Linked DNA regions of Homo sapiens. The protein of the gene in region 1 interacts with the protein of each later gene in a biochemical or structural test. Each region holds a gene or a part of one and is shown in the gene's direction. Other genes may lie near its edges.

What was found. The genes of interacting proteins can lie anywhere in the genome.
Region 2: the proteins of ANAPC16 (region 1) and CDC27 are reported together in a solved structure, tested with the Homo sapiens proteins (one study listed by BioGRID).

Annotation. Positions count from the first base shown.
Region 1 is NC_000010.11:72,231,986-72,236,992, forward strand, and holds the end of ANAPC16 (anaphase-promoting complex subunit 16), read left to right. Parts: intron 1-1,015; coding exon 1,016-1,131; 3' UTR 1,132-3,875; downstream 3,876-5,007. UniProt on the Homo sapiens protein: Component of the anaphase promoting complex/cyclosome (APC/C), a cell cycle-regulated E3 ubiquitin ligase that controls progression through mitosis and the G1 phase of the cell cycle.
Region 2 is NC_000017.11:47,136,460-47,145,117, reverse strand, and holds part of CDC27 (cell division cycle protein 27 homolog), read left to right. Parts: intron 1-1,135; coding exon 1,136-1,235; intron 1,236-2,681; coding exon 2,682-2,889; intron 2,890-3,092; coding exon 3,093-3,265; intron 3,266-6,226; coding exon 6,227-6,379; intron 6,380-7,757; coding exon 7,758-7,966; intron 7,967-7,972; exon of another isoform or gene 7,973-8,658. UniProt on the Homo sapiens protein: Component of the anaphase promoting complex/cyclosome (APC/C), a cell cycle-regulated E3 ubiquitin ligase that controls progression through mitosis and the G1 phase of the cell cycle.

The DNA of each region.
Region 1 (5,007 bases):
AGACTGGCCTGACCAACATGGAGAAACCCCATCTCTACTAAAAATACAAAATTAGCCAGGCATGGTGGCATATGCCTGTAATTCCAGCTACTCGGGAGGCTGAGGCAGCAGAATCGCTTGGACCCAGGAGACAGAGGTTGCAGTGAGCTGAGATCACACCATTGCACTCCAGCCTGGGCAATAAGGGTGAAACTCTGTCTCAAAAAAAAAAAAAAAAAAAAAAAAAAATTAAGCTTCTGACCAGCATAGAATAAGACCCCATTATGAGAATTTTGAGGGTCGGGCACAGTGGCTCACGTCTGTAATCCCAGCACTTTGGGAGGCTGAGGCAGGCAGATCACCTGAGGTCAGGAGTTCGAGACTAGCCTGGCCAACATGGTGAAACCCCATCTCTACAAAAATAAAAAACTTAGCTGGGCACGATGGCGGGTGCCTGTAGTCCCAGCTACTCAGGAGGCTGAGGCGGGAGAATCACTTGAACCCACGAGGCAGAGGTTTCAGTGAGCCGAGATCGCGCCATTGCACTGCAGCCTGGGCAACAAAGCAAGACTCCATTCCCCACCCCCACCCCACCCCCCAAAAAAAGAGAGAGAATCTTGAGGAGAAAAAAAAATCCATCTAGAAATTTTTTTTTTTTGAGACGGATTCTCACTCTGTCACCAGGCTGGAATGCAGTGGCACGATCTCGGCTCACTGCAACCTCTGCCTCCAGGGTTCAAGCGATTCTCCTGCCTCAGCCTCCCGAGTAGCTGGGACTACAGGCGCATGCCACCACGTCCAGCTAATTTTTTTTGTATTTTTATAGAGATGGGGTTTCACCATATTGGCCAGGATGGTCTCGATCTCTTGACCTCGTGATCCGCCCGCCTCGGCCTCCCAAAGTGCTGGGATTATAGGCGTGATCCACCACACCCGGCCTAGAAATTATTTTTATACCAGTCATCATCTTGGTGGCTGGTGGCAGTCTCTTGGGTAATACGTTGTTGCATAATATTCTTTCCTTGACTCCTTACAGATCAGCAAGTTGCTCGGATGGAAAAACTAGCTGGTTTGGTAGAAGAGCTGGAGGCTGACGAGTGGCGGTTTAAGCCCATCGAGCAGCTGCTGGGATTCACCCCCTCTTCAGGTTGATACTGCCTGGATGGTCACCTCTGGTGCGCAGCAAGTGCAAAGCCAGTGGGGGACTTTCTCACAGCTTACATAGCCATCCAGAGATCCACAGCTACGTCACTGAATTGTTAATGCACATTTGTACTTGGTTTCTCTGTATCTATTCACAGGCAACAAATACTTATATGTGTGATCTTTCAGGGAATGTTTTGTTTATTTGTTTTTAAAAGTATTGGGAATCAGATTAAGACAATCAGTTTCAGAGAACCAGGAGGTTTGGGGTTAAGAGATACTCAAAAATTTTCACAAGCCAAGTAGGGCATATATCAGATTTGGCCAACTGAATGGCGTCTGTCCTGTCATCCATATGGTGCCTGGAAATATTTACCAGTCAAGGTCAAGGTCAGCATCTGTGGTTAAAAATATAGCATTCTGACCTAAAAAAGTTATTTTGCAGATGAATGTGTTTTCAACTCAGGACCTATCCAAATGAGGAATTTTTAAATATTCTTTTTTTTTTCCTATTTTTAGACATCAATTCTATAGATTCTGACTTTTTCTAACCTCTTATAGACATGCCAAATGCTGGCAAAAAGAAGTGCTTTTTGGATATGGCAGCACTTGTAAAAATAAAGCAGTAAGCAAAATCCTTTTAAACACAGAAATCCTGAGTTCTTCTCATTGGTGGACTCAAGCAATTCTGTAGCAAATAAATCCTTTGAAAGAGCTCCAAATTGGTGGCATTATCCTTTCAAAATCTCAGGGATTTGGGATGAAGTGAAGAGGTCAAATTACTTTTTAGAAGAAGGGAATCTAAAAACCATCTCTCCTAAACAAATGGTAGACTGGCTTTACTTAAGGGATATTTGTCTTTATAGGAGTACATAAATTTATCTTAATGATATTTAAGTAGTTTTTTTTTTTTTTTGAGACGAAGTTTTGCTCTTGTTGCCCAGGCTGTATCGCAATGGCGCGATCTCTGCTCACTGCAACATCCACCTCCCAGGTTCAAGCAATTCTCCTGCCTCAGCCTCCCAAGTAGCTGGGATTACAGGCACCCGCCACCACACCCAGCTAATTTTTTGTATATTTAGTAGAGACGGGGTTTCACCATGTTGACCAGGCTAGTCTCGAACTTCTGACCTCAGGTGATCCACCTGCCTCAGCCTCCCAAATTGCTGGGATTACAGGCGTGAGCCACCTTGCCCAGCCAATTTTTTTTTAAAGAGACATGGTCTTGCTATGTTGCCCAGGTTGGTCTTGAACTCCTGGCCTCAAGAGATCCCCCCAACCTTGGCCTCCAAAGTGCTGGGATTACAGGCATGAGCCACCGCGCCTGGCCTCAAGTAAGTTTTTATACCATGATAGGGGAAAACCTGGAAGGCTAAGAGATGTGCTGTTTTCCTTCATGGGACCCCACTTTCCACAGTAAACAACTGGTATAATCATTTATTACGTTGTATGCAAATTTTGCCTTAGACAACATTTGTCTGGTTCCTTATTAATAACTTGCATCTGATCTGCTTAGAGTTGCTTAATTATAAGTAAATATAATCCCAGTAGCATTTAGCCTTAATCTCAAGAGTTCAAAATGTTTAACACATTCTACCTGACGGGAGGTGGTGACCTCATTCAGTCGGTTAAGAGCCTGAGCCCTGTGAAGTTAAACACCTGCTCATGGTCACATAGCCCAGGCAGAAGAAAATCTCGGACTTGGAATAGATCCCAGTTGCCTGATAATTCATCTCATTATTGCCTCTAAAGCAAATTGGAGACTGGGCACAGTGGCTCCCACCTTTAATCCCAGCACCTGGGGAGGCTGAGGTGAGTGGATCACTAGAGGTCAGGAGTTCAAGACCAGTCTGGCCGACATGGTGAAACTCAGTCTCTATTGAAAATACAAAAATTAGCTCAGTGTGGTGGCACACACTTGTAATCCCAGCTACTCAGGAGGCTGAGGCATGAGAATCGCTTAAACCCAGGAGGCGGAGGTTGCAGTGAGCTGAGATCACACCATTGCACTCTAGTCTGGGTGACAGAGCGAGACTCTGTCTCAAAAAAAAAAAAATAAAGCCGGGCGTGGTGGCTCACGCCTGTAATCCCGGCACTTTGGGAGGCTGAGGCAGGCGGATTGCCTGAGATCGGGAGTTCGAGACCAGCCTGGCCAACATGGTGAAACCTTGTCTCTACTAAAACTACAAAAAAAATTAGCCAGGCGTGGTGGCGGGCGCCTGTAATCCCAGCTACTCAGGAGGCTGAGGCAGCAGAATCGTTTGAACCCGGGAGGCGGAGGTTGCAGTGAGTGGAGATCGTGCCTGTGTGCTCCAGCCTGAGCAACAAGAGCGAAACTGTCTCAAAAAAAAGAAGAAAATAAATAAATAAAAATCAGAGCACAAGAAGTACCAGTCCACCAACTCACATTTTCTATATTAATAATTCTTAACTAAAAGAAGTTCCATATTCGACAGCATTTTAGTTTTTTAATAGTACTTATTAGCATCAACCATCTTGATAATCACCAAGGGAAAAATTAAAAATACCTAGACTGCAATAAACCTTTAAATTGGATTTTCAGTGAGAATTTAGAAGCAATCACTACCTTTCTCGTTTCATTTGTGTAACCATGCAGCATAGGCACTGTGTTACATCATCTTTACGCTTTGGTATTTGAACTTATTACAGAATTTTTTCTCTAAATTGGATGTTTCTTTATATGACCTTGGAAACTGAAGTGATCTTAGCATTAAACAAAAATGCTTTTTGAAGCACCTTTCTCATTGATCACTTAGCTGCTATTTTAGTCTTACCAAGAATAAGACTCTCACAATTTTTTAAAGAGAGTACCTCCCTCTCTATACCTTTTTGTCAGTCATTATGTTGCATCGTCCACAACGCCTGTTACTATGCTTTGGGCTCAAAGATGGTCCCAGTTGCTGATCTGTCATCTGTCTTCTCTTGTGCCAGTCACTCACAGGCATGAATTATAATCCTCTGAATAACACAGCAAGATACGTAATACCCCCTAATATAGAAAAGGAACTTGAAGCTCAGAGCAAGTGTCACTTGCCAAGGCTGCACAGCTAAGTCAATGGCCAAATCTGGATTTAAGTTCAACTCAGCCAGAATCCAAAGCAGCTTCTTTTAGATTCACTATGCCACATCCCACCAAACCCAACCCAGCACATTGTATTAGGAAAAATCCTAAAACTTTTGATTAAATGGTAAAAGGAAGTAACTACCTGGAGAAAATAAGGCTTCCGCTACCTTCCGTCCTCCCTCCCAGGGCTTGGCAAAAAGAGATCTTGAGCATGAGGAAGGAACAGCTTCTTCAGAAACAGGAATTAGCTGTATGTTGGCTTCTGCATACCCTCTTAAGATTCAATATGGGGCAGGACACAGTGGCTCACACCTGTAATCTCAGCACTTTGGGAGGCTGAGGCAGGCGGATCACCTGAGGTCAGGAGTTCGAGACCAGCCTGACCAACGTGGAAAAACCCCATCTCCACTAAAAATACAAAATTAGCCGGGCATGGTGGCACATGCCTGTAATCCCAGCTACTCGGGAGGCTGAGGCAGGAGAATCACTTGAACCCAGGAGGCAGAGGTTGCAGTGAGCCAAGATCGAGCCATTGCACTCTAGCCTGGACGACAGAGCGAGACTGTGCCTCAAAAAAAAAATTATTCATATCAATCTGACACATAATTCTATATAACTGTTTTGTCTCGTAATGAGATATCAACAGTAAAATAGCTAGTTTTACACAGTCGTACAAAAATTTCCCATTTTGACTTCACAATTATCCAGCATCAGCTTTAAAGTCCAGAGTTTTCACTGATACACAAACATGTTATTGATTAGTGCCATCCCATAGGTGACACACCGGAATGACAGTGTCT
Region 2 (8,658 bases), on another chromosome or scaffold:
AGAATAAATTTATTCCATTTTACTCTGTCATGACTAGCGGAAGTCTGTTCTTTCTATTTAGAAAGTTTTTTTAGAGATGATTAGAATGGCATAGTACTTTTAGCTAAATCATCCAAGAAAGGTTGTGTGTCATTTGCTCCATATGAAGTGAAGTCTAATTCTGAACTTTGGAAGCCTTTCGTTATCAAACTCCTAGTTTATCAGATGCAGATTAAAAGGATTTATGTGTGTGTGTGTGTGTGTGTGATATACACACACATGCATATACAGAGGTATCTGTACATATTACATATGTACATATCGTAAAAGATGAAAATATATATCTTTTTATTTTCTGAAATTCTTTGACCCAGACTCAGGTAGCTAGTAGGATTTCCCATAAATTATAAAGTTTAGATAGTTTAGTCCACAAGTTTACCCACTGTCAATTCTAGATTGTTTCAGATTTTAAGTTTGCTTGCTAAGATTGAAATTCTCATATCTCAGGGTTTGCCTTTAAAGTAAAAATGTACAGAGGCTCCTTTCGCTCTAAAGAGAATAAGCCTTTGATATAGCTGTTTGAATTTACAGGGAAATAACTTCTCAAATATTAGTAGTTCTAGTGGTATTTACTTGTTAACAAATACCCCACATTTAGACTATCTTTGCCCAACTGTCTTTTCTTTTTTCTCTAACTTGTTGTAGTTGCAAATGAAGGGTAAAAATAATTGATTTATAGATGTGCTTATCATTTGTCGATCCAGAGTTTTATGAGGATTATTTTTAGTTCAAATTAAGAATTTCAGAGAGAGTGAAGATCTATGCTATAATCTTTACTATTTTGTAGTAACGAGTCATTTTATTTTTATTTTTTTATATGAAGGAAAGTTTATTAAGGATTATTGACTTATGATCACAAGGTGAAGTCCCACAAGAGGCCATCTGCAAGCTGAGAAGCAGGAAAGCCAGTCCGAGTCCCTCATTTTTAAATACTGTGTTTTCATAGAGAAACCACGAAAAGAACTGATCAAATTCATCAACTTTAGAGTACTTATATAATTAATGTATATTTTTAAAATATACCCAAATTGAAACAATGGTTAATGGTCATAAATCAAGTAAAATATTAATGTCTTCCTTTATAATTTTTTTTTAGTACAACACCTCAGGTATTGAGCCCCACTATTACATCTCCCCCAAACGCACTGCCTCGAAGAAGTTCACGACTCTTTACTAGTGACAGCTCCACAACCAAGGTAATTTAAAGATTTCTGTATGTCACATTTACTTAATGCTTCGCCTGCTAACATTTCTGTTCATTGATGACTCCATTCCTAATAAGTTAACAAAGAGACTATTTCGAATTTTAAAATGTTTTAATTTAGAGGGCCATCTATGATTTTTGTGAAGTTAATTAGTCCTTTGGTAAATATTATATAATATTCTTTTTTAATTAAAAAATTTTTTTTCTCAAGTTAAAAATGACATAGGAATAATCTTGAAATGGCAAAATTATAGGAATGGACAACAGATCAGTGATTATTAGGAGTTAGGCCTCTAGGGAGGATGTTACTATTAAATCATGGCACAAAAGAATTGCATTGTGGTGGTACAACAGTCCTGTATCCTGATTGTGGTGGTTGATTACACAGATCCATTCACGTGATAAAATTTTATAGAACTATGCACACACATACACACACACGGGTTTATATAAAAACTGATGAAATCCATGTAAGGTCTTTAGCTGATAATATTGTACTAATTTCAGTTTCCTGGGTATGATGATATACTATGGTTATGTCACATGTTATCATTTGCAGAAGAGTGAGTCTAAAATTATTTGAAAATAAAAGTTAAAAAAAACTGGAGACCCGGCGGACGCAGTGGCTCACGCCTGTAATCCTAGCACTTTGGGAGGCCAAGGTGGGCCGATCACTTGAGCTTAGGAGTTTGAGACCAGCCTGGTCAACATAGCAAGACCCCATCTCTGAAAAAAAAAATTAGCTGGGATGGTAGTACTCTTTGATCCCAGCTGCTTGGGAGGCTGTGGTGGGAGAATCACTTGAGCCTGGGGAGGTCAAGGCTGTGGTGAGCTCTGATTACATCATTACACTCCAGCACGGGCAACAGAATAAGATCCTGTCCCAAAAACAAAACAAAGGCCGGGCACGGTGGCTCATGCCTGTAATCCCAGCACTTTGGGAGGCCAAGGCAGGCAGATCACCTAAGGTCAGGAGTTCGAGACCAGCCTGACCAACGTGGAGAAATCCAGTCTCTTCCAAAATAAAAATTAACCGGGCGTGGTGGCTCATGCCTGTAATCTCAGTTACGCGGGAGGCTGAAGCAGGAGAATCGCTTGAACCCGGGAGGCAGAGGTTGGGTTGCGGTGAGCTGAGAATTACATCTACTTATTTTCTTACTTTTAAATAATAAATGAGAGTTTGATATACTTTCACAAGAGGGCTACACTTAATGCTGACACACCTTAGTCACTATTAGTTAATGTAATTTATGTTCAGAATTACTGTGTTTAAAATTAAATGACTTTGAAGACCTTTGTTTTTATAAACTCTCTTCTGAAAAAAATATAGAATTAATCAAGATTGTACATTTATTTTATATCTAATACTGGAGAAAGGGCTGAGGAGAAATCTAAAATACATGAGTATAACAGGTGTGAAATTTCTTCCCTTTTACAGGAGAATAGCAAAAAATTAAAAATGAAGTTTCCACCTAAAATCCCAAACAGAAAAACAAAAAGTAAAACTAATAAAGGAGGAATAACTCAACCTAACATAAATGATAGCCTGGAAATTACAAAATTGGACTCTTCCATCATTTCAGAAGGGAAAATATCCACAATCACACCTCAGATTCAGGCCTTTAATCTACAAAAAGCAGCAGCAGGTCTGTTTTAAATGCTTAATATTATCTTTGTATTTTATTATGTACTTATTTTAAGTAAATTTCTTTATGTTCATTACAGTACCTTCATTGTTTTTTATATAGATGTTGGAATTTTTAATAGATTAGTTTGTAATTACCTTTTCTAGAGAAGCAGACTAGTTTATTGCGTTTTTTCCTTTGTTTACTATGTTGTTTTCTCCTAGAAGGTTTGATGAGCCTTCTTCGTGAAATGGGGAAAGGTTATTTAGCTTTGTGTTCATACAACTGCAAAGAAGCTATAAATATTTTGAGCCATCTACCTTCTCACCACTACAATACTGGTTGGGTACTGTGCCAAATTGGAAGGGCCTATTTTGAACTTTCAGAGTACATGCAAGTAAGTATAGAAAATGGTTATATATGCCTTTCTAGAGATAATTTCAATTTCATTAAAATAAATGCCCATGCTTAAGAAGGCTAGATCTAAAAGATCAGTATTTATTATGTAATGTCTATATATTTATTTTGTCAGTATTTATAATTTATAGATATAGTTCTTTCTTGTGTTAAGGAGTAATTTAAATTCTTTGCAACTTCTCGGAATAGGTTTATAGAGACCCAAGTCATCCAGACATTCTTACGTAGAGTGTGTCCTATTCAGTTGTGTCTGAAAATACATATTTATATTTACCATGTAATAGGATTTATTTATTTTTCTGCAATATACAGAGTTAATTACTGGGGTGAATTTTTGACATCGAATATGTTTTATAAGCTTGAAGAATGCTATAAAGAAAATTGTGCTGAATTGAGGACACAATGTCTTTAATACAAGGCTTTTTACTCTTTGGATTTTAATTAAATTTGTTGCTTAAGTTATCTGTCTATACCAGAAAAGGAGAGAATGATTAACCTAAAGCCAAAGAAAATTCTAATTCCCAATTTATATTACCCCTTAGTTCTTCCCAAAGCATTTTCTCCACCCCCAACTTAAAAAAAGAAACCTTTTAGAAACCTATATATTAATAAAATATCTCTAATATGGATTAAAGTTGATATGATTCGTTTTTTGCTTAATTTGCTTTCAGTTCATTTATTCAATATATATCTCTGTGCATATGATATCCTGGACTCTCTTCTAGACTCTGTATTACAGCTAGTCAGACAATTTCTTGCCTCTGTGGAGCTTACATTCTAGCAACAGACAGATTATAAGCCAATAAATGTATAAGAACAGGTAGCAATAAGTCATGAAGAAAAATGAAGCATGGTGAGGAAACTGGGAGACAATGAAGTATGGTGTTTTTGTTTTTATGTACTCAGAGGGAAGGTTACTCTTCCCTTCATGATCCATGCAAAGATCTAGGGGAAAGGTGTTCTTTCCCACAGGGAATACATACAGAGGATACCTATTCATATAATTTAATTTTGAATAGTACAGAACAGAGAGTTGAAGACAGAAAGTCTTATTCATTGCTACAAAACCCATGTTTCGATTATGGTCCTTTACTGGTATGTAGCATATACACAGACAGGCAAGAGCTGTGTTCGGAAAAGCCATTTAAAAAATTATTTCTAATTTATTGTTTCACAGCTACTTTAACATAAATGAATTTTATTGTTTCCCCTAGTTATAGTGGTGACCCAAATATTTAATTAAAGAAAGCCTCTGTTTCAACTTAATTTCTGAGTTTTTTTCCCATTTTTCTTTTTGTCTATGCCATAATCATTTTTCAGAGGAAGCAACAGATTCTGAAAACTTTGAAACCAAAAGGTACCTACCTATATTTGGCTGGTAGGTCTTTTATCTTGTTACCATGCCTGAATGAAAAACTTGGCCAGGTGTGGTGGCTCATGCCTATAATACCAGCACTTTGGGAGGCCAAGGAAGGGGGATCACTTGAGCTCAGGAGTTGGAGACCAACCTGGCCAATGTGGTGAGACCCTGTCTCTACAAAAAAATGAAAAAATTAGCTGGGTGTGGTGGCACTCACCTGTGGTCCCAGCTACTTGGGAGGCTGAAGTGGAAGGATCACTTGAGCCCTGCAGGTCAAGGCTGCACACTTACCTTTATAACTTTTAAGAGATTGCAAGGAAGTTACAAATCGTTAAGCTATTCCTATATATCATATGACCACTTCTTGGAATTAAGCACTCAGTTTTAAAATGCTCTTATTTTCTGTCATACTCATTTCATTAAGAATAGTCCAGATATTCCTTATTATAAACTAAACTGTGAAAATTTCTTTTCCTTTCTTTTTTTTTTTATTACCTAGACCTTTTCTGGCAGCTGAGAATTTTGAACTTGGTAAATTGATAAACTAGGAAACTGATTTTATATAACCTAAATCCTCAAACTTTAGAGGGAGAGAAACACAGTTCTGGGAGCTGTGAATGTGATGAGGAAAAAAATTGATGAGGCAGCTGAGGAGAGACCCTGAAGTCAAGAGAGTGCTGCAAAGGAAAGGATAATTAATAGGTAGGGCCTATGATTCCTAGCAGACACAATATTGGTGTGTATATTCAGGGCTCAATAGGATTTATAACCATAGGATTGATAGCCAGCTTAACCTGTTTCTTCCCTCTAAATTTTCTGGCACAACCTCTCGGTAAAAATTGTTCAAAAATAGATTTTATGTTACAGAAATCATTCTTCCATCATCTTTCCTAAAAGAGTTATTCTGGCCAGGTGTGGTGGCTCATGCCTGTAATCCCAGCACTTTGGGAGGCCGAGGCGGGTGGATCACAAGGTCAGGAGATCGAGACCATCCTGGCTAACATGGTGAAACCCTGTCTCTACTAAAAAATACAAAAAATTAGCCAGGTGTGGTGGCAGGCGCCTGTAGTCCCAGCTGCTTGGGAGGCTGAGGCAGGAGAAGGGCGTGAACTCGGGAGGCGGAGCTTGCAGTGAGCCGAGATTGCGCCACTGCACTCCAGCCTGGGCGACAGAGTGAGACTCCATCTCAAAAAAAAAAAAAAAAAAGAGTTATTCTGTAATGCCATTATTAAAACTTGGAAATGAGGTTTTTGAGAAGGAAATATTGACTTTTCTTTTGAATTGTAGCTTTGTATAGATTTCTCTTCGGTCTTTTTGGTAGAAACTCAAATTTCCTTTTCAGAGTTCATGTTCTTACCATGGCTTGTATATAAATACTAGGTTGACTGTCAATATGGTTACATCACTATTTGACCTGCCATAGTAGATTGCTGAATTTGTCCTTGTGTTAATACTCATTCACATAAAAACCATAATACAAGGCAGCATTTAGATCCTGTGAAGATAATGACCAGGGCTTTCCCTGTGTATATATATAAATTGTATCAACTTGTTTTCTCTTACTAGTTTTTTTTATTTCAGGCTGAAAGAATATTCTCAGAGGTTAGAAGGATTGAGAATTATAGAGTTGAAGGCATGGAGATCTACTCTACAACACTTTGGCATCTTCAAAAAGATGTTGCTCTTTCAGTTCTGTCAAAAGACTTAACAGACATGGATAAAAATTCGCCAGAGGTATGTTAACCAAAATACTTTGCTTATATAGTTACCTTTTTGATCACCCTCAACAGATAGAGATGAACCAAGCAATTCAAACACTATTTAGTGTCACCCACGCTTATTTCTTTTTTTTCCTCTCTCTCTAGTCAGGGACTCAGAGAGGAAGAGAAAGTCCTAGAATGTGTGGTGCAGATTCACAAATAGAAAAATCACAAAGCAGCTATTTCATTCAGGATTTATCGAGATTTGACTACGTTAAATTTGCTGTTGTCACCAAGATTAGGGTTCGTTGAGCAGAAGTTACATAGATTGAAAAAATTAATAATTTTAAATTAAAATAAATTAGTATTGTCATTGTAAGACATAGGTGCAATTAATGTACATGCTCTAATCTTGTAAGATTGTATTTCATTGCATCTCAAAAATATTTAATGATACTTTTGTAACATATCTAAGCTTAGAATTAAACACAGTCAACTCCCATTATTTGCGGTAATTCTGTAGTCAACATGAACACTGAATTAGTGCTACTGAACCAATGTTCCTGGGAGTGATGGAGAGTTTGAAACAGAGATAGATTGTGGATTATAATCTTGAATCCTAAAAATAACTCATCCTGGTAGATCCTATTTTCTTTACAAAAGAGAGAATGCTGCTGGGTGTGGTGGCTCACACCTATAATCCCAGCACTTCGGGAGGCTGAGGCAGGCGGATTCCTTGAGCTCAGGAGTTCCAAGACCAGCCTCGGCAACATGGCAAAACCCTTCTCCACAAAAAATACAAAAATTAGCCAGGTATGGTGGCTGGCATCTGTGGTCCCAGCTGCTCGGGAGGCTGAGACAGGAGGATCACTTGAGCCTAGGTGGCGGAGGTTGCATTGAGCCAAGATCACACCACTGCCCTCCAGCCCGGACAACAGAACAAGACCAGATCTCAAAAAAAAAAAAAGAGAGAGAATGAGGTTCAGAGGTGACTTGCCTGAAGCCATCCTACTTAAAAGTGCCAGCAGTGGGATTCAAATTCTGTCCAACTGTCCCCAGAGCCAAAGCTTCTTGCACTACACTAAACTAGCCCACAGAGTTTCTGTCCCTGGTCATCTCTGCATGAGAGCTAAAACAAGAAGGTAGAGTCACATTATTCAACCTCAAATGAGAACATACCTTTTGATGACTATGAAAGCACTGCAAGTATTGATTTTGGTTTTACAAATAAATTTTAGCAATCAGACAAATTCACAAATATGGAATCTGTGAATAATTAGAATTGAGTATCTACTGAAGCTCCTCCATTTTTGTCTTTCTGTTCTAAGTTGAGGCTTGATTTTAGTCATAGATTTGGTTTTAGAAAAAGTAAAATTTTAATTCTGTTTGGTTTTTGTTCCCATTTTTTTAAGGCCTGGTGTGCTGCAGGGAACTGTTTCAGTCTGCAACGGGAACATGATATTGCAATTAAATTCTTCCAGAGAGCTATCCAAGTTGATCCAAATTACGCTTATGCCTATACTCTATTAGGGCATGAGTTTGTCTTAACTGAAGAATTGGACAAAGCATTAGCTTGTTTTCGAAATGCTATCAGAGTCAATCCTAGACATTATAATGCATGGTAAGTGGTAATGAAGTACAAAGACAAAGTCGTATTGATGGTGCTGGTACTTACTAATTTTTCTTGTTAGATAGCTCTTTATTATCATGAATTTGGTTACTTATACTTAGGGATGGTACATACTGGTCAATAACTTCTAACTAAAATGTTTTCTTATGAAATGTACGTCTTTAACAAACTCTTAAATTAACTAATGATAATAGAATACCAGATCCTTATACTCAACAGTTTCAGCCTTCTACCAAACTTTTGCAGATACTGTAGTTGTTTTTTGTTTGTTTAGTTTTGTTACTTTGTTGCTTTTTCTTCGAACACCGAAATGGTGATTGGGATGAAAAGTGCTTGGGAAATTGGAAAGGAATAGCATAATTCACTTATTGGATAATAGGAAAAAAAATTGAAAAAATTTACTAGTTGCTGCTTTTTGACAGTGTTCTGGTTTATTGAGTTACTATTAAGAACTTAGTGTACCCTTTTATTTAGCAGTATCTCTATTTTACTTTTTTGTACTTGTGTATAAGTAGACACATAGGAAATTACTACCTAGGTCATATTGTTATCAACTGAATAAGATATGAAAAAGTTTGGTCCTATTTCTGCCTCAACACCATACTTACTGTTGACATTTATTGTATTTTTCTGGACTGACTTAATAGTTTAAATATCAAGATAAGGTATAATTCTGAAGCCAT